Linked DNA regions of Homo sapiens. The gene in region 5 interacts genetically with the main gene of each other region. Each region holds a gene or a part of one and is shown on either strand. Other genes may lie near its edges. The genes, in order: LARS2, AMHR2, AKT2, ERBB4, GRM2 and SSTR5.

Region 1 (5,041 bases), 6.3 Mb from region 5:
TAATGAGAAGATCCTTTTAAAAAGGGAGAAGGTTGTTGTTCTCCAGGGATGATAAATAAGCAGCCTCAGACCAGGGTTATATAACTCTCCAGCTTCCAAAGAAGCAGCTTCATCATGAGAAACATAGACAACTGTACATGTATCTGAACAGAAGGAACACAGGCCAATGAGTCCTTATTGGATCACTGACTTCTGGCATCTTAATTCTTCCCCTGGTAAAATGATGAATGTCGTCATGAGTGTGCACATGAATGGATAAGGCAAACAAAGATGGTAGTCCTTGAATTAACTCCTACTGGGGGGACCTACTGTTCATGGGGGGACCTACTGTTCAAGGGCAAGAACTGTGCTTTAGTCACCTCTTTCTCCACGTCTGCCCCCAGTGCCAGCAGGAGTTTCATAAAATGTTGGATAAATGTTCGTTGGCCTTTGTGCTCCAAAAGCCTGATAACTGGCCCCTATGGAGCACTTTTTACCCAGCAAACTTCACAAATCCTACCCAAGTAATAGGAGGGTTCCCCACACCCAAGTTTAAATCATCTCATGACAGGGTCAAGGGTGGAGGGGCTGGAGAGAAAGGAAGAGCAACAGGTAACTGGGTAACTGATTCTGTTTCGTCACTAAGGGTCAGAACTTCTGCTTTTATTTATTTCTGCCTTCTGTTTTTTCTTCCTGGCCTTATTCCCTTGCTAGAACTTTACTCCAGTTCTTTAAGAATTTGCTTCCCCTGAAGTAATGCAAACAAACACGAAACAGAATATTCATAACCCTTCTTTTATGTACATATGTGGGATGGGGTTTTTAAATATTGTTTGCTGAATGTTCGCATGACTGATAATACACATAAACCAAATATAATCAGTAGAGCAGAAGAAACCAGAAATCAGATTCTTGCCAAGGAGTTCGTAAACTTCTTTCAGCAAAGAAGTTAAACAAACCTTTAACGGAACCATTAGCACGTGGCAAAAAGAAACCCACAAAAACTAGAGTAGAACTTTTCTTTGTGCTGCCCATCCTCTAGAAATTACCAAGGAGTGTTAAGCTGCCTGAAGGAAGAGATGGGAAAAAGAGAACAATTAAGAAATCTGGATCATACACAAATTAGAAAATCATCTGGAACTGCTGAAATGACAACTACAATGGATTTATACAAACAGGATGGAAAGCAACACATTGGTCAGACACTTTAATTAGAAACTGCAGATTTATAACTCTTAGGAAAACCACAGAAATCTGAGAGAGGACCTGAGATTCAGGGGTTGGTGGGAACTCAGGAACTTAATAACTGTCCTTAAGAAAGTGAGTGGCAGATAACCTTCTCAGCTTATGAGCAAGTCGTCCAAGGAGGTACAAGACCCCATTCTTTTACTTAGTGCAGAATCAGAAGAAAACTATCCACTCAATTCATGCCTTACTCCTTACAATGAATTAGGCTTATGGCTTATTCTTCAGAAATTTTTAGGAATATGGGAAAATAGCTGTTAAGAGTTCTTTGGGAGCTAGGAAAACAGTAAAATCCTTGATCTAAGCTGTTTCTAGTTTTTCATTTGAAAGTTTTTACATAAAATTATTTTTATTATACTAATGTTTGTTATGTATTTAATTTACCAATCTTGCCCCAAACATTTTCCACCTGTAATTTCTTTACTAGCATCTCTTGTTTTACATTTGTTCAATAAAGATTAAATTAATAGCAAAATCAAATGAATAATTATATACTAGCTAAGCCAAAATCCAAATCTGAGTTCATAAAAGATACATAGAAAAGTATTGTTTTCTAAAGTCTTTAATATTCATGAAGATTTCTGTTTATTACAGAAAAGGTATTCAGCTTATTGCCTGTCCCTGCCTTTTGCTTTTCTGCATGAATTAAGTCATTTTCCTCTGTGACAATGAAATGAGTTCTATCATCTGGGGGTGGAAAAGAGAGAAGGAATGATGGGAGTTTCTGTTATAATTGAGCAAGAATCTGATTGAAAGGGAAATTTTCATAATTATATAAAAGTATAAGAATTTAAGCCTTTAAAAGAGATTAAGATTTAAATGATAGGGAAAGGATGGCTTTTATAAGTGGGTCCTATTATTTTTGTCAGCTTCTGACTTTAGAAGAAAGATGACTTCTGCCTCTTTATAGATCACGCTCTGAAGCTGTGGCTGAGCCTAGAGGGTGACAGAGTAAAAGGAGCACCTCAATAGGAATCCGGAGCCCCAGTTCTGGTCCTAGCTTTGTCACTAGCTGTGAGGCCTTGGGCAAATTCTTTTGCCTTCTGGGATCAGTTTGCTAACTGTAAATCAAAGGTGAGACAAAAGAAGGTTTCTGTGTGGAAAAGCATGAGCTCAGGAATCAAACACACATTTGATTTTGAATCCTGGCTCTGCCATGTCTTGGCAAATTACCTAAACCTTTTTCTGAGCCTCAGTTTTCTTACTCCAAAAATGAGGATAATAATACCTACCCGCTGGGTTGTTTCAGGATTAAATGAGATAATCAATTGAAAGACAGTGCCTGGCACATGGTTAAATGCTCATTAAATGCAAATTATTTTTTAAATGATAAATATGGTGATTTCAAGACATTCCATTTCAAAAAACTTATGTGAGTGGATTTCAAGTGAATCTGATACCAGAGTGAGATCGATTATAAATGCTTCAAAATCCATGAGCATTCCGTCATAGTCTCAGGTCCTGATAGACACACCACGTTCTGATCTTTGTGTATCTTTTATTTATGTACCACTTCAGTTTGTAAAATGCATTTTGTCACACATTTTCTCATTTGATTTTCAAAACAATTCTGTGAGATAAACAATGCAAGGAGCCCAGAATCCAAAACATTAAATGATGTGGCCTGGATCACACAGGTTTCCTGGGGCAGAGCCAGCATTGCAGCCCAGGCTCTGGCTCACTCACTGAGTGCTCACTCTGCTTTGCCATTCCTTGATTCAAACCCTGATAGGGGGCTGCCAGGGGATCACACACAATGCCCCTTATGCTATCTCCCCAATTGCTAAAACAATTTATTTTGATCCATTTGATATTTTAAAAAACTGTATGCTTAAGAAGAATGAGATGTCACAAAATCAGTAAGCTACAACATCAAAACATTTGGAAGTCAATAAATGATTATCTAAACCAAAAGGGAAAAAAAAGCTAATTTTACTGTCCTCACTCAGAATTAAACTGCTCCTTAAGAGTTTGTTTTCAAAATCTATTAAGTTACATTAGTCTGATGATGTTGACACAAGGGCTTTTCACTTCCTAACAAGGTAGAAGTCAAGCTTTCATTGTAAAATTATGTATTACATTCAAACCTTCCCTTTTTTTCATTTCATTTTACTTGTTACACACTACATCTTTTTCAATAGCAATTTTTCTTTCTAACCATTGCCCAAAATCATCTTTCAGTTTAACACAAATAGCTCTCCTCCCCTTACTCATTTTTCATAACCACCAATCTCACAGAAAGAATGAATGTGTTGACCGAATCAGGAGATGGGGAAAAGGCAAGTCTAGAGAGGTGTGGTCTTGTGCAGCTGTACTTATTCAGCTGCTTGCCTTGGGCCTAATCTCTTTATTAAACATAGAGGGTTTGTATTATTTGACTATAACTACTACAAAGAGATGATCAGAATTTAAAACTCCAATCAGATTCAAACATTTCATGTAACAATCACATCTCCCAGCTGTCATTTTGACCAGTATCAAGAGGTAAGGGTTAACACGTTCCAGACTGATTCCCAGCAAGCTGGCCTCCCAGAAAAGGAACAGAGAGCACTCTGTGGAAACTGGCTGCAGCCAAGTATTATGCTTCCACCATTAATTCAGGTAGAGTGCCGAGCTGGTGTACCTGGTGCAGAAGCCAAGGGTCCACTAACTCATGTAGCTGCTACCTCAAGGTTAGACCCTACCCCAGTTCACAACAGTGAAAGGGCTGGTGTGCCCCAAACCATGATGCTAAGGCAGCAGAACAGAGTTGGAGGCTACGATTGCCAGGGAAGGGGCAGTTACTTCTCAGAACATGTAGCCAGCGAGGAGCCCAGGTGCCTCTCCTGGAGTCTCAGATATGACCCTGCCAGATCCCTGTGTGCTGCCCCACCATGCAATGGACCACAAAGGACCCATCATCTGGTAGAGCTCCTATTTTGATGAGCTTCCCCAGTAAATGTTGCTCTAGAACACCTGGTTTGCTGCTGTCTGTCATACACCTCGTGCGCAATATTACTATGTGTGCATCCACCACATTGGAAACTCTTGTAAACACTACCTTTGTATCACCTCATTTATGCCTCCCAATCCATTTACCCCTCCCAATAGTGCAGGTGGGCACTATTATGATCACTCTCCATCTCAGATAAGAGAATTGAAGCACAGAGAAATTCAACAATTTGGTTCAAGGTCACATATTTAATATCTTATTTGAACCAGGTAGTCTAACCCCAGGGTCCAAACCTTCAACCCCTCTTCTCTACCCTCTTAGAATCTCTCAGAATACTCACATCAGCTTCTGAAATTTTGGAGGCCTGTTCTTTTATTCGTTGATGCCACCATTTCTCAACATCCTTTCTTGTCTGCAATGTATACTCTTTTGTCCACTTTCCCGTGGCACTGTAGATGCTTCTGGTACATCCGGGAATTACTCTCCTTTCCCACTTGATGACATCTGGCCCACCATTTAGCTGTCTTTTCAGAAGAGAGGCATAAAAACCCAATCTCTGCCAAACAGAAGCCATTCTTCAGAAGGTGAGAAGGCCCTGAAAAAGAGGGCAGAAAGCACACTATGAGCTGCCTCAAACCCTCCCCAGAGCTTATCTTTCCATTTGGCACAGTCCAGTGTTCTGGCCCTGTGCTTTCCTCTTACTTTTAATAATTTCTTTCCCTGAAAAGAATACTTTAGCAATTCAATTGAGCTAAACACAAACTTTTTAATAGAAAATATAAAGGGTCAGTAACCCCTAACATCAAAGATGCAAAAATCCTGTAGGAAAAAATGGAGACCATCAGCTGGCCAGCTCCTGCGCAACCTCACAAGTTGCATGGAAGG
Region 2 (3,434 bases), on a different chromosome or scaffold from region 5:
CAGGACTTTGGGAGGCCAAGGTGGGTGGATCGCTTAAGCCCAGGAGCTCAAGACCAGCCTAGGCAATATGAGGAAACCCCATCACTGCAAAATTACAAAAATTAGCTCAGCATGGCAGTGCACACCTGTAGTCCCAGCTACTCAGGAGGCTGAGGTGGAAAGATCGCTTGAGCTTAGGAGGTTGAGGCTGCAGTGAGCCGTGAGCATCCCACTGCACTCCAGCCTGGGAGACAGAGCGAGACCATGTGAAAAAATAGTAACAGGCTGGGCACGGTGGCAGACGCCTGTAATCCCAGCACTTTGGGAGGCCAAGGTGTGAGGATCACTTGAACCCAGGAATTCAAGAACAGCCTGGGCAACACCGTGAAACCCCACCTCTACAAAAAACAAAAAATTGGCTGGGTGTGATGGCACATGCCTGTGGTCCCAGCTACTTGGGAGGCTGAAGTGGAAGGAGCACCTGAGCCTGGGGAGGTCAAGGCTGGCAGTGAGCCAAGATTGTGCCACTGCACTCCAGCCTAGGTGACAGAGTAAGACCCTGTCTCAAAATAATAATTTTTATTTATCTTTTTTATTACATAAACAATACATGTTTATATATTTTTATTTTATTTTGGTGGGAGGACGGAGTCTTGCTCTGTTGCCCAGGCTGGAGTGCAGTGGCACAAGCTTGGCTCACTGCAACCTCAGCATCCCAGGTTCAAGCGATTCTCCTCCCTCAGCCTCCCCAGTAGCTGGGATTACAGGCGCTTGCCACCACGCCTGGCTAATTTTTGCATTTTTAGTAGAGACGGGGTTTCACCATGTTGGCCAGGCTGGTTTCAAAATCCTGACCTCAAGTGATCCACCCATCTTAGCCCCCCAAAGTGCTGGGATTACAGGTGTGAGACACCGTGCCCAGCCAAAAAAAAAAAAAAAAAAATTGTTAAAGAAATATCTTCAGGCACAGCCCTCCAAACTCATTCGTATTCATTCAACAAATAAGTATGAACTATATGTCAGGCACTATGCTAGAGGCCACAAAAAACACACAGTCCCTCTTTTACAGATTTTATAGACTAGCAGGGGAGACAGAAATGGATCAAGTAAACACGAGTGTCAAATGTCAAGTGTGCTAAGTGCTAGGAGAGAGGGCCAATGAACTATAAGAATAATAAGATGTGACTTGAAGGGGAGAGCAATGAGCAACAAGAAGAGGAAAAGGTAGGCAGAGGCCAGCCACACCAGGCCCTGTGGGCCTGTTAAATATTTGGGGCTTTTTAAGTTTTCATACCATTTCCCATCTGCTTCCTGCTAGGCATTACGCTACCCGCTTTTTATTTTATTTTATTTTATTTTATTTTTTAGACAGAGTCTCATTCTGTTGACTAGGCTAGAGTGCAGTGGCACAATCTTGGCTCACTGCAGCCTCTACCTCCTGGTTTCAAGCAATTCTGCCTCAGCCACCTGAGTAGCTGGGATTAAGGCGTGCCGCCACTACTCCTGGCTAATTTTTGTATTTTTAGTAGAGACGGGATTTCACCCTGTTGGCCAGGCTGGTCTCAAATTCCTGACCTCAAGTGATCTGCCTGCCTCGGCCTCCCAAAGTGCTGGAATTACAGGCGTGAGCCACCCCGCCCGGCCATGCTACACGCTTTAAACACATTTCCAAACTTACCCTTCACAAACACATTATGAGATAGGAATGATTATCCACATGGGGCTCAGAAAAGGAAAGTCATTTGCCCAGAATCTATGTGACTCTAGAGCTGGCTCCTCATCATCGTGTCTATTGCCTCCTGTTTACCCCTCCATCAGGACTGTGTGTGTCTCTGTCCACGTGGAAGAGCTCCCCACAACTCACTTTGCCCTATTGTAAGTAGTTCAACCTCCACCACCTGTTTCAGAGCCCAAATGCAGTGGCTCTTCCCTGAACTTTTTCAGCACCTACAGCTTCTGTACTTCTGAAATCTTGAATGATGGAAAGTCCCTTCTTTGACCATATACCTCCTGGCCCAGCTCAAAAATCACTGTTTTTTTGTTTGTTTAATTTCTCTGACTTCTCCAGGCAGGGTTAGTCATTCTTGCTTTATGCCCCTTGGCACTCGGTTAATTTTCCTATCTTGGGGTTTACTGCATTCTTTATCTCTTACCTTCCCTGAGCCATCTTGGTGCCTGAACACAGTTCGTGGCCACCGAAGGTGCTCGATGACACTTGTTGAATGAGGGGTTCTATTGCTCCCTTCCCTCCAATTCCCACTTGCCCTCCACCTGCTACTCTGTTATCTACTGGCTCTGCCCGTCTATGTGTACACATGCCTGACACCTCAGACAAGGTGACTCATGAAGGATGCCCCTGACTAGCTTGCCCTGCCTCCTCTGTTACTGTCTTTGCCGCATGTCTTCTGAGTCAGTATAAGGTGGTGGTTATTAGTAAGTGATCCTGAGTCAGACTGCTTGGATTCAAGCTCCACTCCTGCCTCACCGACTGACTTCAAGAGAGTTTCCTTAGTTCTGTAAGGAAAAGCTCTTCATCTGTTAAATGGGGGTGTGACAGGAGCACCTACCTTCTAGGGTTTTCACAAGGATTACAGGAGGCCACATCCACTGGGTCTGGACCACAGTAAGTGCCCAGTACCCTTGATCTAGAGTTACTATTTTTCATGTCAATTGATGCACAGTCTTACTCCTCTACCTATTGTCTTGGCCAGCATCCATCAGTGTGTCTGTCTGCTGGGGAGATGCAGGGAGAAGACTGTCAATTGATCTCTGCTCCCTGGGATGGATCAGCCGTCTCCAGCTTTGTGTACCATCCTTTTCTCTCTGCGTTTCCCCAGGGCTCCCTGTGCCACTACTTGACCCAGTACACCAGTGACTGGGGAAGTTCCCTGCGGATGGCACTGTCCCTGGCCCAGGGCCTGGCATTTCTCCATGAGGAGCGCTGGCAGAATGGTGGGTGAGCTGGGCATAGGAAGTCAAGGGAGCCACAGTGCTATGTTTGTGATTCTGCCTTAGTTTGGAGGGGAAAGATTGGGTCAAAAGAGGGAGGAAGAGCCGGGCACGGTGGCTCACGCCTATAATCCCAGCACTTTGGGAGGCCGAGGTGGGCGGATCACAAGGTCAGGAGATCGAGGCCATCCTGGCTAACATGGTGAAACCCTGTCTCTATTAAAAATACAAAATATTAGCCGGGCGTGGTGGCATGTGCCTGTAGTCCCAGCTACTCGGGAGGCTGAGGCAGGAGAATCACTTGAACCCGGGAGGCGGAGGTTGCAGTGAGCCGAGATCGCGACACTGCACTCCAGCCTGGGCGACAGAGCGAGACGCCGACTCAAAAAAAAAAAAAGAGGGAGGAAGAAAATCCATGTTCCTTCAACCTTGGATTCCCCCACAGGCCAATATAAACCAGGTATTGCCCACCGAGATCTGAGCAGCCAGAATGTGCTCATTCGGGA
Region 3 (5,041 bases), on a different chromosome or scaffold from region 5:
TGGGCAAGAATGCTTTCTAGGTGGGACTTCCCACAGCCTGTGGTGGCACCTCGGGGCTCTCGTGATGTCTGTTTGTCTCCCTTGCAGGGACGTCACAGGTGTCTTGTCCCTAGCAGCCTGGTCCTTACATTGTGACATTCCTGCTGACTTTTCACCTGTGGCTTTGAGAGCCACTGATGATCCTCGTCTGGGTCTGCTATTTGCTGAGGGTTTGCAGGCTTTCACTTTTCACTCCTGTGATTTTCTGCATTTATGGCTGGGAATGGAATTGCATTTCACAAGGCCTTGCTCCCCTTCGTCGGGGCGGAGTGGGCAGGTGTGGTGTTGCCCACCAGCCCCTCACCCGCAGTCTGTCTGCAGGATGAAGTCGCTCACACAGTCACCGAGAGCCGGGTCCTCCAGAACACCAGGCACCCGTTCCTCACTGTGAGTTGCCCTCCCCTTCCCAGACAGTGTGAGGCCAGCCTTTGGACAGAGCTCAGAGAGAGAGCCCTAATCTTCTGGTACAAAGCACAGTCTTGGGGTAGGCCAGGCGGGCAGGGCAAGGTGTTGCTGCGCCCTGCCAAGTCATCCGAACCAAGACATGTGGTGGGGGTGAGCAGGCTCGGGGAGTGGGAGGGTGACAGCTTCTTCATAGATGGTGGCTTCATGTAAGCATTTGAACTAACTGAAGATATCACATTATTTGCTGGCTGCTGTCTCTATGAGTTAGGAGCACTTAGCCCAGCTGGTTGAAGTGGAAACATTATTTTTTTTGTTTTTGTTTTCAGATATGCTCATAGAAGCAGATGTGTTAGCATTGTGTTGTCTGTCAGCCTGGACTGAGTAGATGCCTGTTTGGGCTGCAGTCTCCATCAAGGCCAGTGGCCACCAGTTAAATGGACTAGATTGAGGATGGCTTATGTATCATTTCTTTATCTCAGTTGCTGTCCAGGTATCCTATTAAGCCACAGTACTTTTTCAAATAAAATCTTATGAGGTACCTCAGTGCAGAAAACAGAATAGTTGAGTTGTCATGAGCTGAAGGACCCCCTGGTGGGAGTCTCTGAGGAACTCTCTGTAGATCTCCTTAGTGCAGTGGAGAACTACTGTTTGTTGACTGACAGCCTGTCCATCCTGTCATTGAAGTTGGCTCCCAAGCCTTTGCCACTCCCAGCCACAGCAGACATCACTTGTGTGTGTAAGTTGAACACATTTTACTGTAAAAACAAGAGCCATGGTTGCTCAGAACAGCTCTAGTTCTCCCTTGGCTGTGCCTGATGGAGGCAGAGGACAAGATGGTTCAGCATGTAACCCTTTCCTACCGCAGAGCCATGCCTTCACTTAATGCCCCAAAAGGTGCAGCCGGTATGTGAACCCCATATGGCTGACTCCTGGGGGCCCCAGCCAGGGCAGGGTGTGTGTGTGCAGAATAAGCAGGGCCAGGGCCCTGCCCTGGCATGGCTCAGCAGAGCCCTCCTCCCTCCCACCTCCCACCCTGCTGCCTTCATCCCCCAGGCGCTGAAGTATGCCTTCCAGACCCACGACCGCCTGTGCTTTGTGATGGAGTATGCCAACGGGGGTGAGGTGAGCCGCGGCTGCCTTGACTTTGCCCTCTGGGGCCTCCTTCTTTAGGGTGGGGCGGGATGGAGAGGAGCTGTGGGTGAGATGGAAGGGTGGAGGGAAATTTCAGTGTCATCTAGTGCCCCTCTCCCTTGAGGCAGGCGGCTTCGTCTCCATTTTGGGGGGGCAGTCACTGAGGCTCAGAGAGGTTAAGTGGCTTGCCCAAGTTTACACAGCTAGTGAGTGGGTGGGTCAGGTCCAAACCAGTCCAGAGAGGTGTGGAGAGGGCTGTGGGGCGATAGCACTGGGAAGGATGGTCTTAAAGGCCCCAGAGAAAGCCCCCAAGGGTTAAAACCTAGCAGCCCTCCGTTCCCGTGTCCTCTCGAAGTGAATTCCCGCAGCCGCTCAGCTTCCCCTTACAGAGTCGCCTCACTTTTGTCACCCACTCCTTGCCTCGCGCCTTCTCTGTGCAGTGGTTGGCACACCTGCTTTGGGATGCGTGGTTTGCTCATCTGTCTGATCTGGGCTTGCCCATGGCCTATTGTTACTTGGTCATGACGTGTGCTTCTTTTTGCCTCCATGCCATCCTCCCTCCTGTCTCGGATGTCTCTCCCATACCCTCTCATGGGTGCCTCCTGGCAGACCCTCGCCCTTCCCCCCAGCTCTGTGTCACTTATGAGCTTCTGCGCTCTGCCTTGATTGGTCCCTCTAGCTGTCACTTGCTGGTTCATGATACAGGTGTCACCACATCACTGCGCTGGGGCAGGGGGCTGGGAAGGTGAGGGCAGGTGGGTGGGCTGGGGCCTGACCTCCTCTCCCCACCCCTTCCTCCTGCAGCTGTTCTTCCACCTGTCCCGGGAGCGTGTCTTCACAGAGGAGCGGGCCCGGTTTTATGGTGCAGAGATTGTCTCGGCTCTTGAGTACTTGCACTCGCGGGACGTGGTATACCGCGACATCAAGGTTAGTGGCAGGGTGTGCGCCAGGCTGACCTGTGGCATGCACACCACATGGGACTCACACTGGGGAAGTTGGGCTGAGCTTCTGCCCTCATTCGCCAGGCTCCCCACCAAGGTCCAGGGTGGTGGCTGCCCTCATTCGCCAGGCTCCCCACCAAGGTCCAGGGTGGTGGCTGCCCTCATTCACCAGGCTCCCCACCAAGGTCCAGGGTGGTGGCTCTGTGGCAAGTTGCCCCAAGTAGGGACCTTCCCAAGCCTCCCATGAGCGCTCCTAGGCCACTAGCGGAGTGTCAACTGCCACAATACCTACTTTATTTGTATTTATTTATTTATTTATTTTTGAGGAGTCTTACTCTGTTGAGTGCAGTGGTGTGATCTCGGCTCGCTGCAACCTCTGCCTCCCGGGTTCAAGCGATTGTCCTGCCTCAGCCTCCCGAATAGGTGGGATTACAGGTGCCCGCCACCATGCCCAGCTAATTTTTGTATTTTTAGTAGAGACGGGGTTTCATCATATTGGCCAGGCTGGTCTCAAACTCCTGACCTTGTGATCCACCCACCTCAGCCTCCCAAAGTGCTTGGATTACAGGCATGAGCCCCCGCGCCCGGCCAATTTTAGAAGATAGTTTGGCAGTGTCCACCAAAGCTGAGCACCAGTCATCTGCCCTAGCTGTGTGCACAGGAGAAGTGGGGACACACACTCACCTTAGAAAGTGTCCCCCTCACTCAGCAGCAGGACTTACTCTAGCCCCAACTGGAACAACCCAAGTATCCACTGTGAGAGGAACAGTCAGATCCACTGTGGAGTGTTCTCACAGTGGGACGCCACACAGCAGTTAGGAATGAGCTACAGCTACACACGACAGTGTGGACGCGTCTCATAGGCTAATGTCGAGGGAAAGCCGCACAGAGGAGGTGAGTCCACAGTTCACAGGTGTGTCTGTGTGCAGTGGTACAGATGGGAAGTAGAGGTTAATTCTTGTGGGGGATGGTCAGTAACCGGGAGGGGCACACAGGGCCTTCCAGGGGGAGATGCCACCTCAGCCTCGCAAGTAGCTGGGACTATAGGTGTGTGCCACCATGCCTGGCTAATTTTTTTTTTCATATTAAGAAATATGGAGATGGGGTCTCGCTGTGTTGCCCAGGCTGGTCTCAAACTCATGGGTTCAAGCAATCCTGCCACCTAAGTCCCCCAAATTGCTGGGATTACAGGTGTGAGCCACTTTGCCTGGCTGCATATTTCATAATTAAAGGACAGAAAGTCTAGAAAAAAAGAATAGAAGAAAGCTAGTGCCCCCACGTTCGAAATAAGAACCACAGTTCACAATGGGGACGGTGGGTGGACAGGGCCTGGCTCTCGGCTCTCCCTGCCCAGCTGTTCCCAGGTACCATGGGGGTGGGCCAGAGGGTGAGGAGGGTTGGATCTGGCCTCTCTCTGAGCCTCAGAGGGTGAGGCTGTGTGTGCTGGGCCCAGCCTGGCATGGGAGGGTTGATGTCCAGGAGCCCCGGGCATCTTTCCCTGGAAGGAAAGGCTGGGGTGGCAGGAAGCCTTGGGAGCATGCACCTGAGATCCGTTGACTTTTCCAACAGCTGGAAAACCTCATGCTGGACAAAGATGGCCACATCAAGATCACTGACTTTGGCCTCTGCAAAGAGGGCATCAGTGACGGGGCCACCATGAAAACCTTCTGTGGGACCCCGGAGTACCTGGCGCCTGAGGTGTCTGGGGTTGGTGGGGGTAGGAACGTGTGAGGCCAAGGGTAGGGGGATCCCCCAGACCTGTGTGTTTCCAGCCCAGATGCCCTGAGGGCAGGACTGTGATGCCAGCCTCAGGGCCACGGGCCCAGCCCTCATTTCTCCTCCATCCTCAGGTGCTGGAGGACAATGACTATGGCCGGGCCGTGGACTGGTGGGGGCTGGGTGTGGTCATGTACGAGATGATGTGCGGCCGCCTGCCCTTCTACAACCAGGACCACGAGCGCCTCTTCGAGCTCATCCTCATGGAAGAGATCCGCTTCCCGCGCACGCTCAGCCCCGAGGCCAAGTCCCTGCTTGCTGGGCTGCTTAAGAAGGACCCCAAGCAGAGGTGAGGGCTGGCGTCGGCCCCACCCAGCCCAGCGCCAGCTGCTGCCACTGTCCCTGCGGCCTGGAGGGGGCAGCGTCCACAAGGGTGCTCGCTTGTAGGGTCGCAGTGTGTCGTCCCCACACAGCCCCTGAAAACGTCCACAGTGGCACTTAGGGAGTGCTTCCCCCAGGGCAGGCCCATCCTTGACACTGCCTTATTTTATGGGGACACTGAGGAACAGGGCATCCCCTGGGCCTGGCTGGGGCCACCAAACCATATGTGGCAGAGCCAGGATAGGAACGGAGCCTGCCCTACTAACTCCCTTTCTGGACTCAGGGTAAGGCCAGGCAGTGAGGACACGTGGGTCCGGGTTGCTGACTCCCTGGCTCTGACCCTGGGCACGTGAGCTCCCTCCCTGAGCCTCGGTTTCCTCCTCTGTGAAGTGGTTTGTGGTCAAGACAGAATCATTAAGGGCCATACA
Region 4 (5,041 bases), on a different chromosome or scaffold from region 5:
CTTGAATTCAAAATAGGAATAGCTTAGGGCTTTGTGTATATAGTAAAAGAGAGGACTGTCAGAGGACTTACAATACATGCGTGTTTATGTCTATGTGCAGTCTATATTATAGACATAGATGTGGAATTAAGCTTCAGGAGAATGGTGATAATTATTAGCACCTTTTAGGCCAATACCTATACTAGATGGATTTATTAGATTGATCCGTACAAAATAGGCACTAATTGACTGGTTTCAATATACAAAATTTATTTTATTTTATATAATTCAAGCTGATAGTTTGCTACTTTGTGATTATGATTGGTCAATGGAAATATTATAATTATACTTTACTATTAAGTAGAAGTATATGTAATGTCAAGCAGGTCAACTAGAGGCATGTTAGCTATCTGTTAGATTTGCTTTTTTAGTTGAATTTTTTTCCTTTGATGCTTTCTTTTCCATGTGTAAAACCTTTTTCAGAAGCATCTCCAATTAAATCCTTGTTACCAGTATAGGCAATCATAGCAAACCATAGAGACTAAAAAACATGATTTCTTCACTCCATCTATTCATCTTGGCATGGAACTCAGCTATAGATTCTTGTTTTTTCAATATCCTTTATAGAAGTTAAGTTGTCTGTATATTTAAAGACTATTTAATCCTAATAGGTAGTCTTATTTCCTAATATAAATAACTTTTAGAAAACAAAAACATTGAAACAACCAGCCCCATATGCAGAAGAGACAAATGCAATTAGAAAGAAAGAAAAATTTAGGAGATAGAAATTCTGATTCTGGCCTCGTTGGCTTCTTGTTTTATTATAAACATTTTTGACCCACTTACTCTTTTTTTCATAAGACAATGGTGATCCACAAATACTTGTTGTGAGAAATCATGAAAACAAATCTGTGGGTTTTTTTGTTCTAGACAAAGAAGCTAACCATTATGTATAACCTTGGTCTGATTAATATTTTCCAGAAACTAGAGGTTAGCTGATATTTTTTTATTCCTTTAGAATACCTGAATCCAGTGGAGGAGAACCCTTTTGTTTCTCGGAGAAAAAATGGAGACCTTCAAGCATTGGATAATCCCGAATATCACAATGCATCCAATGGTCCACCCAAGGCCGAGGATGAGTATGTGAATGAGCCACTGTACCTCAACACCTTTGCCAACACCTTGGGAAAAGCTGAGTACCTGAAGAACAACATACTGTCAATGCCAGAGAAGGCCAAGAAAGCGTTTGACAACCCTGACTACTGGAACCACAGCCTGCCACCTCGGAGCACCCTTCAGCACCCAGACTACCTGCAGGAGTACAGCACAAAATATTTTTATAAACAGAATGGGCGGATCCGGCCTATTGTGGCAGAGAATCCTGAATACCTCTCTGAGTTCTCCCTGAAGCCAGGCACTGTGCTGCCGCCTCCACCTTACAGACACCGGAATACTGTGGTGTAAGCTCAGTTGTGGTTTTTTAGGTGGAGAGACACACCTGCTCCAATTTCCCCACCCCCCTCTCTTTCTCTGGTGGTCTTCCTTCTACCCCAAGGCCAGTAGTTTTGACACTTCCCAGTGGAAGATACAGAGATGCAATGATAGTTATGTGCTTACCTAACTTGAACATTAGAGGGAAAGACTGAAAGAGAAAGATAGGAGGAACCACAATGTTTCTTCATTTCTCTGCATGGGTTGGTCAGGAGAATGAAACAGCTAGAGAAGGACCAGAAAATGTAAGGCAATGCTGCCTACTATCAAACTAGCTGTCACTTTTTTTCTTTTTCTTTTTCTTTCTTTGTTTCTTTCTTCCTCTTCTTTTTTTTTTTTTTTTTTAAAGCAGATGGTTGAAACACCCATGCTATCTGTTCCTATCTGCAGGAACTGATGTGTGCATATTTAGCATCCCTGGAAATCATAATAAAGTTTCCATTAGAACAAAAGAATAACATTTTCTATAACATATGATGGTGTCTGAAATTGAGAATCCAGTTTCTTTCCCCAGCAGTTTCTGTCCTAGCAAGTAAGAATGGCCAACTCAACTTTCATAATTTAAAAATCTCCATTAAAGTTATAACTAGTAATTATGTTTTCAACACTTTTTGGTTTTTTTCATTTTGTTTTGCTCTGACCGATTCCTTTATATTTGCTCCCCTATTTTTGGCTTTAATTTCTAATTGCAAAGATGTTTACATCAAAGCTTCTTCACAGAATTTAAGCAAGAAATATTTTAATATAGTGAAATGGCCACTACTTTAAGTATACAATCTTTAAAATAAGAAAGGGAGGCTAATATTTTTCATGCTATCAAATTATCTTCACCCTCATCCTTTACATTTTTCAACATTTTTTTTTCTCCATAAATGACACTACTTGATAGGCCGTTGGTTGTCTGAAGAGTAGAAGGGAAACTAAGAGACAGTTCTCTGTGGTTCAGGAAAACTACTGATACTTTCAGGGGTGGCCCAATGAGGGAATCCATTGAACTGGAAGAAACACACTGGATTGGGTATGTCTACCTGGCAGATACTCAGAAATGTAGTTTGCACTTAAGCTGTAATTTTATTTGTTCTTTTTCTGAACTCCATTTTGGATTTTGAATCAAGCAATATGGAAGCAACCAGCAAATTAACTAATTTAAGTACATTTTTAAAAAAAGAGCTAAGATAAAGACTGTGGAAATGCCAAACCAAGCAAATTAGGAACCTTGCAACGGTATCCAGGGACTATGATGAGAGGCCAGCACATTATCTTCATATGTCACCTTTGCTACGCAAGGAAATTTGTTCAGTTCGTATACTTCGTAAGAAGGAATGCGAGTAAGGATTGGCTTGAATTCCATGGAATTTCTAGTATGAGACTATTTATATGAAGTAGAAGGTAACTCTTTGCACATAAATTGGTATAATAAAAAGAAAAACACAAACATTCAAAGCTTAGGGATAGGTCCTTGGGTCAAAAGTTGTAAATAAATGTGAAACATCTTCTCATGCAATTATTTTATTATCCAACACACTAATCTTTTGATACTTTATATAATTCCCTTTCTTCATATACTGCATCCAGTACTAGAACCATCATTATTATGTATCATTTTGAAAGAATACCTGATGAGATGAAGGATGAGAACAAATGACAGAGATGAGTCTCCAAGTAAAGGGGGCCTCACATCAATAATTAGGAAACTTAGATATAAGTCGCCCTTTTCTGAAAATTCTACCCCAAGTCATTTAGATTTTTAAAAAATATTTCTAATGTTAAAATATTGGGACCAAATTAGAATCAATAGTATAAGATTAATTAATTAGAGTAAAAATATCTATTAAGGCAGAGAAAGTTTAGAGAAAAAAATCCAAAGAAATTTGTGTTTCTTCCTATTCTGAACAAGTAAATCCATCCATCCATCCATCCAAACCTCCTTTATCTAACTGTGTCTACTAAAAGCACCATGTTTTGTGGGGAACACTCAGATAAATGGAATATCATCCTCAACTTCAAAATTCTATGATCTAGGAGATTTAATTAAAATGACATTTTAATTTTTCTATGCGTTCCAACAATCAGATTGCATAGTCTCTTTTGTGAATAGCTGTCATATAATCAGTTGTACTGTAAGATATCTCCTTTAAACTCATTTGGGATATAAGTTAAACATCCTTCAAATTGTTGATGTTGACAAACAGGATAATTTCAATAATATTATTCAAACATAAACTGGTCTAGGAGAATATTGCATCACTGACTAATTAGCCTATCTAGAGTCTAACTTCACCATTAAACCAAAAGCAGATGGTGGTCCTTGGCCAAGAATATTGGAGACATTGGAGTTGGTTTTTTTCTAAGCTATAAGAAGTGAGGCGAGCTGAAAAAGTATGGTAGAGCAGGAGAAGGGTTTGTGAGATTCCTTCTAGTGAAGTTCACCCTCAAACTTTTCAGGGGTAAAGACACAGAGTGATTCAGGGGCCACAATCTAATAGCTCAGGGCTCTCCTATCCATTCAGAGAAGTCTCTAGGAAAAGGGATCTCATATCAGTACTTATGAAAAATTGAATATAAGCCTCCCTTTCTAAATAAATCTGCATCGAGTCATCACAGCCCTCTTTTTGGATACTATACCTTGATTTTTTTTTTCTGATTTACAATATGCATATGGTTTCTACTGGGCTATAGAAAGCAGAATCACTCATTTTGGAGAAGGAAAAAATGAATAGTTAAAACAAACTTTTAACTGTTAAGGTAACAGAAATGTATTTAGTGAATGTCTCTTTCCTCCTAAGAACACAAGACTTCTACATGTTGGGTAATACCTAGAGATGCATGTAGGAATAATCCAAAATGACCCAAATGCTTTATAATAGCACCACTTTATAATTCTTTTGAATGATTTCTGTAGTATATAATTGACTTCAGTTGTTTGAGTGTTTTTTGTTTTATTTTTGTCCCCCCTGGGAAAACATATTTCAGCATGTATAAGAGGGAGAAAAAAAGTTTCATTCCTTCCAGAGAATAACTTATTTAGTCCAGTAGGGTAGAATTTTAAAATGTCAGTTAAAGTCTTCAAAGTGCTTGGGGGGATATCAGATTCCAGAGGCCAATTGTAGCAATTGAAATTTGCAGAATCAATTATGTAAATCTGAGACAAATTAGTATTAAAATTACACGGAGTATATTTTTTAAATCACCCAACTTTGTAGATTATACCTATTTTGGGCAGGTATGGAAAAATTTTGCAGTTAAATGATTGCCTAAAGAAAGTGGTAAACAGGTGAGGAAAGATGGCCTCTGATCTAGGATAGATCCAGAACCACAAAGCATCTGCACCACAAAAGGTGTTAGACTACCAAGCAGCTCCTGGTTTTCTGCATAGTATTAGTAGCACAGCTTAGGATGAGAATCCTTTCTCCAGTAACATTCTTAAAATAGCATGAAAAACAACGCAAAACTCAAATTTCTATTAAAACACACAAACTAAAATCAAGTGATTCTTTTTTGTAGATTAGGGAGAAGGACTGAATATCTAATTTAAGAGAAGGAATAGTGTTTAAGTGTTATAGTGTGTGAG
Region 5 (5,041 bases):
CATTTTGAGGGTCTCTGGCTCCTCCTTGGGCCTTGCCCACTGTCTTCTGTCTCCTTATCTTGCCAAAGGTGGAGACCAGGAGACCTCAAGCCCATTCTCAGGCAGCACCAAGAGTTAGAATCAGTCTGGCTTGAGGGTGAGCATCAGGATGACGCTCTATATTCACGGAAAATGTCTTTCTGTCTTTCTTTTTTCTTTTCTTTCTTTTTTCTTTCTTTCTTTCTTTCTTTCTTTTCTTAGATGGGGTCTCACTATATTTTGTAGGCTGGAGTGCAGTGGTTATTCACAGGCACAATACAGCCTCCAACTCCTGGGCTCAAGCGATCCTTCTGCCTCAGTCTCCAGAGTAGCTAGGATGACAGGCATGTGGCACTGCTCCTAGCTTCAGGGAAAATTTCTATTCCTAATCTTGATTTTCCACTCAAGGTGACCTGAAAGTCTCCTGAAATCAAAAGTTATTTTAATAAGAGTGCCAGCTTTAAGAGAAATGACTGCTGCAGATCATCACTATGCTTCAGGAAGAATCACCGTGGGAACAGTGGGAGACAAAGCTTGGAAGCCCTGGCCCAGGGTTAAGATGAAGAGTACTTCCAATAGAACTGACATTCAGAGTTAGCTACAATCAGTGTAGGGGTTAGGGTTGGAATCTGGGGTCCGATTTGGTTGATGTTAGAGCAAGGCTAAATTCAGCATGTTTGGCTTGGGTGGAATTTATGGTAGGGCTAGAGTTGGATTTTGAGAACTTTTAGGCTGAGTAGAAAGAGTAGGTGCTTGAGGGGACCTGGGTTTGAATCTAGGCTGCACTATTCACTCATGGGGCCTTAAGCATGTCTTCTGCTTTCTTGAACCCTGATTTCTCACTGGGGCCAGGGATGGCTGTAAATCCTGGCTAGAGCCTGGCTGGGAGATGTGAGGTTTACAGGGGATGAAGTGGGGGTGGAGAGAGGAAGTGATTTTCCAGCCACTGACCACATTCTGGTGAATGGCAGTGGTTGCAGGTGACCAGTGAGGTTGGGATTCAGTTTGCACCAGGATGACTGTTAGGACTAGGGGTGCTGGAGCTGGGGTTGTTGTTAGGATTAGTGGGGACAGGATTGGAGCTGAGACTGGGTTTAGCCTTAGCATTGAGTTTGGGGAGAGGGCTGTAGTGTATGTTTCGATGAAGTTGGGATTTGGAGCCTGGGTTGGAAAGTGTTGGATAGTACTAAAGTTGAATTTGGGGAGTCATGGTTGGGGATTGATGTGGGCATTAGGTTTTTGGAGATGTCTGGGCTTTAAGGCTGGGATTACATTTGGCATTTAGGGTTGGGGTTTGATGTTGGAGTTTAGGAGTAAGACTTTGTTGTCATCTCTCATTTAGAAAAATGATTGGGGTCAAGGCAGGATTTAGTATTGGGTTAAGGATTGGAAGGGCTAATGGTGGTCTTAGCTCTGGCATTTGGGTTCCATGTTAGGGTGAATGTTGAGGTCACATCAGGGTAACACACTAGTCCAACCTTCTCTTCCTTCCCTCCCCCATCCTAGCCCCCTTTCGCCCAGCTGACACCCACAATGAGGTCCGCTTTGACCGCTTTGGTGATGGTATTGGCCGCTACAACATCTTCACCTATCTGCGTGCAGGCAGTGGGCGCTATCGCTACCAGAAGGTGGGCTACTGGGCAGAAGGCTTGACTCTGGACACCAGCCTCATCCCATGGGCCTCACCCTCAGCCGGCCCCCTGCCCGCCTCTCGCTGCAGTGAGCCCTGCCTCCAGAATGAGGTGAAGAGTGTGCAGCCGGGCGAAGTCTGCTGCTGGCTCTGCATTCCGTGCCAGCCCTATGAGTACCGATTGGACGAATTCACTTGCGCTGATTGTGGCCTGGGCTACTGGCCCAATGCCAGCCTGACTGGCTGCTTCGAACTGCCCCAGGAGTACATCCGCTGGGGCGATGCCTGGGCTGTGGGACCTGTCACCATCGCCTGCCTCGGTGCCCTGGCCACCCTCTTTGTGCTGGGTGTCTTTGTGCGGCACAATGCCACACCAGTGGTCAAGGCCTCAGGTCGGGAGCTCTGCTACATCCTGCTGGGTGGTGTCTTCCTCTGCTACTGCATGACCTTCATCTTCATTGCCAAGCCATCCACGGCAGTGTGTACCTTACGGCGTCTTGGTTTGGGCACTGCCTTCTCTGTCTGCTACTCAGCCCTGCTCACCAAGACCAACCGCATTGCACGCATCTTCGGTGGGGCCCGGGAGGGTGCCCAGCGGCCACGCTTCATCAGTCCTGCCTCACAGGTGGCCATCTGCCTGGCACTTATCTCGGGCCAGCTGCTCATCGTGGTCGCCTGGCTGGTGGTGGAGGCACCGGGCACAGGCAAGGAGACAGCCCCCGAACGGCGGGAGGTGGTGACACTGCGCTGCAACCACCGCGATGCAAGTATGTTGGGCTCGCTGGCCTACAATGTGCTCCTCATCGCGCTCTGCACGCTTTATGCCTTCAAGACTCGCAAGTGCCCCGAAAACTTCAACGAGGCCAAGTTCATTGGCTTCACCATGTACACCACCTGCATCATCTGGCTGGCATTCCTGCCCATCTTCTATGTCACCTCCAGTGACTACCGGGTGAGCTACCTGCCACAGAGGTCGGGGGAGATGGGACACCAGACCCTCTGTTTCCTGGTATCTTATTTAATCTACTGGTAGCTCTGGGGTTCCAAGAGGATAATGCCCACTCAGGGGACCACAGCTTGTGTGGATCCCAAGGGGAAGGTGGGAGGGCTGAATAGGACCTAGGGAAATGGCCAGGGAGGTGGGGAACTCGAGTTAGAGAGAGCTGAGATTTCAGGACTTGAATGTCATCCCCTATCCTGGAAGGTGATGGGGGTGCAGAAATATGTTCAAATGGACAGGGTTCTGCCCTGCTCCACTGAGGGGTCATCTGCAGAAGGGGTTGAGAGATGAAGCCAGGGAAGGCAGGAAAGATGAAGCAAGGTGGGTAGGGGAGGAGATCCAGGGTATAGAGTTGAGAAAAGCTAAAGCAGGTGAAAATTGTTCCCCAGTTGGTGGCTTCTGAGCAAATTTGGTTCCAACTGGCACTGTGTCTCAATGGGTCTCCCCAGCTCCAAGGGGCAATGGCTGCTTCAGATAGGGTGGTCAGGGAAGCCCTCTCTGAGGAGGTGACAGATGAGCTATGTTCTGAGTAAGAAGATTATCTTGGTTAATCTTCATAACTTGAGTAAGCTCCATGGCTCTCCCGTTTTACAGATGAAGAAACAGAGACTCAGGGAGGTTCAATCCCTTGCCCAAGGTCACTCAGCTTGGGAGTGCAGAGCAGGGTCTGAACTGCAGAAAAATTGAGGCGAAAGCCCCGGCAAAGGCCCCTTCCCCAGGACAGAGGTGTGGTGGCACAGTGCTGGGGGCCAGGGACCGCTGGGCTTGGCTGCTCTGCTTGCACCTGCTGGGCCACCTGCTTGGGTGGTAGAGGCCAGGGCTGGGGAGGGATTCTGCTCTGACTCAGCCTGCATTTGCATATGATTTGCATTTGCATGCCAATCACAGGCAGCTAAGGACTCACCTGAGACACACACCGTACCCACACATGCATGCACACACACACACACACTTGTACACACAGACATAGCCACATGCATGCATGCACACACACATATCCCACATACACACACTCGCTGGCACACACACATATATCTTCCTGACAAATGAATCCATACCCATGCACCCTACACTCACGCACACATACACTCACGCAGACACCTGCAGAAATTCACCACCCCACATACATGCACTTACACAGATATACACACACACCTACATGCACGCACTCCATTCCTGCAGCCCCCAGATGCACACACCCCTGTGTATACATGCCCCCCTGCATGTTCTCCCCTTCAGCTGGAACTCTTGTCACCCTGGGAAAATGGTCTGGGTCTGATGCTGGGACTGTGCCCAATTTTCCTAGCAATGCTTTGGGATCCGGCAAATGGACCACAGCCCAGTGTTGGATGCTTAGTCTCCCCCACTCCCTCCCCCACAGATCAGGCAGGGGGTCCTGGGGTCAGGCCCAGGTCTTGACCTGTGCTTGTTCACCCACTCACCCACCGCAGGTACAGACCACCACCATGTGCGTGTCAGTCAGCCTCAGCGGCTCCGTGGTGCTTGGCTGCCTCTTTGCGCCCAAGCTGCACATCATCCTCTTCCAGCCGCAGAAGAACGTGGTTAGCCACCGGGCACCCACCAGCCGCTTTGGCAGTGCTGCTGCCAGGGCCAGCTCCAGCCTTGGCCAAGGTCAGTGTCCTAAGCAGCCCTCTCTGCCTGTTCCCCTCTCCCTGTCCAGCTCCTTGGGTTGCTGAGATCTCTTGTCTGGGGGTGAGGTGCCCCCCAAATGACACTGGCAGGAGAGGACAGGAGAGGGGAGGGGAGGCTTCCCTCACAGCCCTGCTTCCCCACTGCCTGCCCTCCATGGAGGACCTCGGGATTGGCCCCAACCTCTGGCTTCCTTTTCTTAGGGTCTGGCTCCCAGTTTGTCCCCACTGTTTGCAATGGCCGTGAGGTGGTGGACTCGACAACGTCATCGCTTTGAAGACCCCATACTCCCGCCCTGACACAGCTGCTCCTGGGAACCTAGTGCAGACCCACGTCCAGGGCCAGGAGGAAGTTGGCTGGAGCACTGCAATAATTTATTACCCACCCTATGTCTGCCCCCAAAGTCACTTACCCACCTCCTTACCCCAGCTCTTCAGACTCAGAAGTCAGGAGCCTTGGCCAGGAGCCTCTGCAGTGGCCACTAACTGCCCTTGTAGCTGTGTTTCCTCCTGGCCAGGCCCAGGGCTCAGAGAGGAGCAAGCCAGGGTTCACTCTGCCCTGGACCCGGGTGGCTGAGGACGGCAGGCCCCAGTCCTAACCAGCAAAGGTGCTTCCAGCCCAGCCCCTCCCCCCAACTAGGGCCTTTTTTATTTTTTATATAAGTTACTCTGGGATGGGGAGGGTGGTTATTGTGGGGGCTGCCCCTCCCCCTGCACAGTAGTTTGTCCTGTGGTTTATTTTGT
Region 6 (5,693 bases), on a different chromosome or scaffold from region 5:
GCTGTCCTCAGCCTCAGGAGAGGGGGTGTCACGGGCCGTGGGACAGGTCACAGTTAGGGTGGGGTCCCTGGAGAGGGGTCTGAGGACCGTCCCTGCGGAGTCCATCCAGCCACCATCGGTTGCCATGGCTACTGGCAGCCCCTAATCCTCACGGTGCTGGGTTTGACCTCTGCAGCGTCCCAGGCGGGCATGACCTCATTTGATCCTCCTGGGGTGGGTGGGACTGAGGCCAGGGGACTCCTGCCCAGAACTCAGGGTGGCCGATGTGGGGAGGGGCACTGTGGGGCCGACAGGTCCCCTCTCTGGCCATCAGGCCCCCAGGAGGGCCCAGGTGCTTGGAGGTGGGGGGTGTCCCAGCTTGATGTTGGGGATGTGAGTAGATCCAGCGCCCACCCACCCGCAGGGCTGAGCTCCCACTGGGCGCTGGGCCGTGACTCGCACACCGGACCCTGCACCCCTGGGGCACCCAGTGATTCCAGAACAGTGGGACCCCAGAGGCTTCTCAGGGAGCCCCAGAACATGACAGATGGGGGCCCAGGTGCGAGGCAGTGGGAGCTGGAGGAACACAGCCAGGGGCTGAGGCGAGAACCATGAGGATGGTGGGCAGAGGCTGAGGGGAGGGGCAGCAGATGGAGATGGGGGAGGCGTTAGGGGTCACAAAGGGGGTTCTCAGAGGATCTGCCTTGGGAAGCCACTGCTGTGGGAGGGTGGGAGGGATACAGCCCAGGTACCTCCAGAGAGGATGGAAAGGCTTATGGGGCGGATTCTGGGCAGGGGACCTGGGACCAGCCTGCAGCCTCCCCTGAGGGCCTGGCCATGGCCGCAGGCTGGGGAGGAGGGGAGGGGACCTTGGGGCCAGGTGCCATGGTCCTCTAAGCACTCTTGCTCGATGGTAAACATAACACGCGCTGCTTGCAGAACATGTGGAAACACTGAAACGCTTAAAGGAGAGAACATGGTCCCGGTACCCGGCCTTCAAGGGAGCTGCTGGCGCCTGTTCAACAGGAGCCGACCCCACCTGTGAACAGACGGCAGGCGGCTGCTCCCATGTCCCCTCAGAGAGGGGCCCTCCGAGTTCTGCTGTCACCTGGGGGCGCCTCACTTCATTCAGCCAGTGGCGGGGCTCCCTGGGTCGGCACAGAGTCAGGGGAGGGGGCTGGGGGACCTCCTGGTGGGAAAATGTCCGGTGATCCCCAGCCTCCGCGCTCAGCGGGAGGAGGCGCTCGGTCCCGCTTCTTACAACCAGCGGCGCTCACGGCGGGCCCGGGGATCAGCATCCCGGGAGCTTCTCAGGAATGCAGATTCCCAGGCCCTCACTGCCTGGGGAGTCGGGGGCCCAGCTCGAGGCCCAGGAATCTGCTTTGAGGACCCAGGTGACTCTGCTGCCTGCCTGAGAACCCCACCTTAGGTGAGGGACTAAGGTGTACCCATGGATTCATTTCAGGGGAAATAAAAAGAACAACTTAGCAGGTAGTCTATGCTTAAATATGTGTAGGATCCACAAATAAGGCATGGATAAAACCCGAGTGGAGTGTCCTGGAAATCCCACGACCACGGACCCCCCTCGCTGGGGCTGCCTGCCGCCCCCACCAGCCTCCACACACCCACTTATCTCCACAACCCCAGCCCACCCCTCAGAGACGTCTGCAGAGCCCCTGACCCTCTCCCCTTGAACAAGGACCCTCCACCCTCTTCAGACTCTCGACGAGGGACCCCCTGGACTCCTGCTGGCGGCAGGACCCCCACCCCAAGCTGGGGTCTACCACAGAGCGGACAGCAAGAAAATAGGGTGGGGGCGCAGGCGATCATGGGGTCACTGCCAGTGGGACCAGGGCTGTGGGCGAGTGCGCCAGGGTTCCCGGAGGCCAGACGTGGGACCCGGGAGTCGAGCAGGTGAAGCGGCCCTGCCCCGCCCCCACCAGGCACTGCCCCGCCCCCGCCCCGCCCCGCCCCCTCCCAGCCGGCGCCCGGGAGCCCGGAGCCAGTGCCGCGCGGACATCGGGGCTCCCCCGTTCAGAGGGCGCCGCCGCCCAGGTGAGTGCCGCCCGCCCCTGTCCCCCTCCCGCGCGGGCACCCCCTGCCCTCGGCTGTTATCCCCACTGGGGGTTTCACCCTGTGTGCGCAGCCCCGGCCCGGGGTCCCGCCGTGCGCCCCCAGCCCGCTGCACGCACTGTCCCCCACGCGCCCTCCGCACACCCGCGGGGCTCTCCTGCCGCCGCCGGGGGTCCCTCCCCTCCCGTTCCATCCACTCCCAGCAGCTCCATCCCTCCCATCTCCTGCCCCCACCCCACAACTCACCATCTGCAGGCACCCCGTGTGCCAGGGTCAGCCCAGAAGCCACAGGGGACCCAGATGGCCCCACTCTGCCCACCGCGCCGCTCCCGGCCTCTCCTCCCCACGACGGGGGCCACAGCGGGGCTGGCTCCTGGAGCTGGAGGAGGGTGGGTAAGGCTGGGGAGGGCTCGGAGCCTGGGGCTGGGGGCCGGAAGTGGCACTCAGGCCACAGGGAACCACTGGGCCACGGAAGGAGGGTCCCAGGGTGCCCGTGGCACCCAGCGAGGGGAGGATCCGCAATTTGGGTGCCGGGGGAGGCAACTGGTGCCTGCGCGCAGCTGGGTCGGTGAGCTCCTGGAAGGCAGCAGGCAGAGGCCAGCACCCAGGGGCCCTGTGACCTGGCACTCACAGATGGGTTCCCTGAAACCCAAGACTGGGGAGGCTGGGGTGCCACCCCGCCCGCTGCGAACAGAGCCCCCTCCTGTCCAAGGCACCGCGTGTACCTGGAATCCTCCTGGCGTCTTCACCCTCTCCAGAATAGAGAACACGCCACTGGGGTGTGTGCCCTTGGCCCTCCTCCCCCACCCCAGACCCACCCACGTGCCCGACCCGCTGTCCCCAGCCTGCCAGCCTGCCTGGGGCCCCCTCAAGGGCAAGAGAGCGGAGTGCATGGTGACAGAAGTTGGGGATGGTTCCAGTGAGGCTGAGCCCTTTCTGAAGGCAGTGATTCTGGACTATGTAGGTGGGGACTGCCAGAGCCTCCTGGGCAGAAACTGGTCAACAGCACCAAGGACAGGCGCCTGGCGTTGATTTCCAGAGCAAGACCCAGCGAGGCTGTCAGGAGGTGCCTGGTGTGGAGGGTGCCCCGAGAAGCGTTCGCGGAGCACGCGGGACCCCTGCTGCTGCTGCTCCAGGCTGGCCCACACCTGCCTCAGTTTCCCTCTCCTGGGGAGGGTATGTGCCCCTGGCCACAGGCTGCCGCAGGGACAGGTGGCGTGTATGTGGGGGACAGGCAGGGGTGCCATTGGCTGCACTCACAGAGCTGGACCCCAAGGGGGCAGTGGCCTGCCACCAGGCCACCCTTACGACAGAGGAAACAGGTCAGAACGCTTGTCCTGGGAGCACAGGCCTGGCTCCGGGGCCTTTGGAGGGGCTGGGGCCTGTAGTCTTAGCTAGGGTGTCCCCCGACGTTTGCCCCTGCCCAGCACACAATGGAGGAGCCCGGGTGGGTCTGCAGCCTCTCCAGGGTGCGGCGTGGGCCCCGGCCGTGTGAGCCGCTGCCTCCCCGAGCAGCAGGTTCCGCAGCCCCTCCAAGCTGCAGCCGCATCGCTGCCCCCCATGAAGGAGCCGACTCCCCGACCTCGTGCTGGGTTAGCCTGGAAGGAGTTGGCAGGGTGCAGGCTAGACCTCCACCCAGTCATGGAGGACTTGGTGCTGAGGCCCCGCCTCTGGTCCCAGGCCCCTGTGAAGACTGCCCCCTTCTCCGAGGAGCCCAGCGGCCTCCTGGATGCTGGGGAAATGCTGGGCTGCTTAGGGCAGCTTGTGGGAGCAATCGTTGAGCGCCCAGTGTATGCCAGCCCCGCTGTGGTCCCCGTCGTGGGGAGGTGAGGCCGGGAGCGGTGCTGTGGGCAGACTGGGGCCATCTGGGTCCCCTGTGGCTTCTGGGCTGACCCTGGCACACCGGGCACCTGCAGATGGTGAGTTGTGGGGTGGGGGCAGGAGATGGGAGGGATGGATGCTGCTGGGAGTGGATGCACGCAGCACCCTGCACACAGAAGCTCACTCAGTTTCATCAGCTCAGCAACCCTACAGTTTGCAGGAGTTGCCTATCCCAGAAGCTGGGCTCAGAGAAGCCCGTGACTTACCCCAGACCACGCAGCCCGTGTGGGGAGTGGTCAGGGGCCGGGGTCTCTCCCAGTGCCATGTCAGGCTGAGCAGATCCCTTCGTGGCCGAGGGCTCGGGATCAGAAAGCTCCTACTGCTGGCTCCCCCTCCAGTGAATCCCCCACCCACAAGGGACAGGGCCACCGGGACAATTCCCCGTGAGTGCGTAATTTTATGATTCAGAGGATACTGCTTCCAAATAACGGCTCTTGCAGAATTATGTTCCAAGAGTCAGGTACAGCAATAATGGTCTATTTGTGTCCTTTGCTGCTCTGAAGTCTAACTCCGGAGGTGGAGCACTGGGGGCCGCAGAGCCGGGGACCTGGCAGCCTGTGGAGCCCCTCGCTGGGCTCTGGGCATGGGAGTGGCCTTGGAGGAACCCTGAGGCTCCTCTGAAGCTAAGAAGCTACAAAGACAGGGAGGCTGAGGCAGGAGGATCACTTGAGCACAGGTCGAGGCTGCAGTGAGCTGTGATCACAGCACCACTTCGATCCAGCTCGGGCAACAGAGCAAGACCCCATCTCGAAAACAAAAAATCAAACAGGCATTTGGGAACCACACGTGCTGGGGACCCAGGGCCTGTGTTGGAGATGGACCGGAGCCCGACAGCCGCCCTCTCCCTGTCCCACCATCGGTGGCTCCTCTGTCCCCTCCACCTGGCCTCCTTGCTACGGAGGAATGGGCCGAAAGTGCCTCCCCAGGGAGGGTGCAGCTCAGAGGCCTCTGCACCTGGGCCGCCATCCCACCCACCTGGACTCCCACGCAGCCCGCGGGCTGTCTCCAGACCACTGTCCTTCCGGAATGCATGCTCCACAGGCAGCCAGAGGGAGCCGCAAACATGGCGTGTTGGATTTCCATGCTGGTCCCTGGGGAGCGGAGAGCCACAGGCCTCTTCCCCTCCCTCTCCCTCTCCCTCCCTCCCTCTCTCCCCCTACCCTGTCTCTCTCTCTCCCCCCCCACTCTCTCTCCCTCCCTCTCTCCCCCCACCCTGTCTTTCTCTCTCCCTCCCCACCTCCCCCTCTCTCTCCCTCCCCCTCCTCCCCCTCCCTCTCCCCCCACCTTTTCTCTCTCCCTCCCCACCTCCCCCTCCCTCTCCCTCCCCCCTCACCTCCCCTCCCTTTCCCTCCCTCTCTCCCTCTCTCCTCCCCTCCCCCTCCCTCTCCCTCCCTCTCTCCCTCTCTCCTCCCCGCCTCCCCATCCCTCTCCCTCTCCCTCCTCTCTCTCTCCCCCTACCCTGTTTTCTCTCTCCCTCCCCGCCTCCCCCTCCCTCTCCCCCATACCCTATCTTTCTCTCTCCCTCCCTGCCACCCCCTCCCTCTCCCTCTCCCTCTCCCTCTCCCTCTCCCTCCCTCTCTCCCCACACCCTGTCTTTCTTTCTCCCTCCCCACCTCCCCTCTTCTCCCACCCCGGGGTCTGCGTGGAGGCCACTGCTCCGTCCCTGCTGAGGATTCTGCTGCACTCTGGCTCCTGCCTGTGGGAATCCGTCCTGTCTCTCTGGCTGGTGTCTCTCTGGCTGGCGTCCCTGCCCAGATGCC

The links.
Region 1: changes in GRM2 (region 5) and LARS2 together harm fitness more than expected from each alone (negative genetic interaction), as found in Homo sapiens cells (one large-scale study listed by BioGRID).
Region 2: changes in GRM2 (region 5) and AMHR2 together harm fitness less than expected from each alone (positive genetic interaction), as found in Homo sapiens cells (one large-scale study listed by BioGRID).
Region 3: changes in GRM2 (region 5) and AKT2 together harm fitness less than expected from each alone (positive genetic interaction), as found in Homo sapiens cells (one large-scale study listed by BioGRID).
Region 4: changes in GRM2 (region 5) and ERBB4 together harm fitness less than expected from each alone (positive genetic interaction), as found in Homo sapiens cells (one large-scale study listed by BioGRID).
Region 6: changes in GRM2 (region 5) and SSTR5 together harm fitness more than expected from each alone (negative genetic interaction), as found in Homo sapiens cells (one large-scale study listed by BioGRID).

What each region holds. Positions count from the first base shown.
Region 1 is NC_000003.12:45,394,143-45,399,183, reverse strand, and holds part of LARS2 (leucine--tRNA ligase, mitochondrial), read right to left. Parts: intron 4,752-5,041; 5' UTR 4,731-4,751; coding exon 4,497-4,730; intron 1-4,496.
Region 2 is NC_000012.12:53,426,080-53,429,513, forward strand, and holds part of AMHR2 (anti-Muellerian hormone type-2 receptor isoform 1 precursor), read left to right. Parts: intron 1-1,797; coding exon of another isoform or gene 1,798-1,854; intron 1,855-2,816; coding exon 2,817-2,931; intron 2,932-3,373; coding exon 3,374-3,434. UniProt on the Homo sapiens protein: On ligand binding, forms a receptor complex consisting of two type II and two type I transmembrane serine/threonine kinases.
Region 3 is NC_000019.10:40,235,430-40,240,470, reverse strand, and holds part of AKT2 (RAC-beta serine/threonine-protein kinase), read left to right. Parts: intron 1-360; coding exon 361-426; intron 427-1,497; coding exon 1,498-1,566; intron 1,567-2,379; coding exon 2,380-2,502; intron 2,503-4,085; coding exon 4,086-4,214; intron 4,215-4,366; coding exon 4,367-4,581; intron 4,582-5,041. UniProt on the Homo sapiens protein: Serine/threonine kinase closely related to AKT1 and AKT3. All 3 enzymes, AKT1, AKT2 and AKT3, are collectively known as AKT kinase.
Region 4 is NC_000002.12:211,380,017-211,385,057, reverse strand, and holds part of ERBB4 (receptor tyrosine-protein kinase erbB-4 isoform JM-a/CYT-1 precursor), read left to right. Parts: intron 1-997; coding exon 998-1,443; 3' UTR 1,444-5,041. UniProt on the Homo sapiens protein: Tyrosine-protein kinase that plays an essential role as cell surface receptor for neuregulins and EGF family members and regulates development of the heart, the central nervous system and the mammary gland, gene transcription, cell proliferation, differentiation, migration and apoptosis.
Region 5 is NC_000003.12:51,713,538-51,718,578, forward strand, and holds part of GRM2 (metabotropic glutamate receptor 2 isoform a precursor), read left to right. Parts: intron 1-426; coding exon of another isoform or gene 427-446; exon of another isoform or gene 447-487; coding exon of another isoform or gene 488-584; exon of another isoform or gene 585-1,524; coding exon 1,525-2,600; intron 2,601-4,099; coding exon 4,100-4,280; intron 4,281-4,501; coding exon 4,502-4,575; 3' UTR 4,576-5,041. UniProt on the Homo sapiens protein: Dimeric G protein-coupled receptor which is activated by the excitatory neurotransmitter L-glutamate. Plays critical roles in modulating synaptic transmission and neuronal excitability.
Region 6 is NC_000016.10:1,070,789-1,076,481, forward strand, and holds the start of SSTR5 (somatostatin receptor type 5), read left to right. Parts: upstream 1-1,958; 5' UTR 1,959-2,034; intron 2,035-5,693.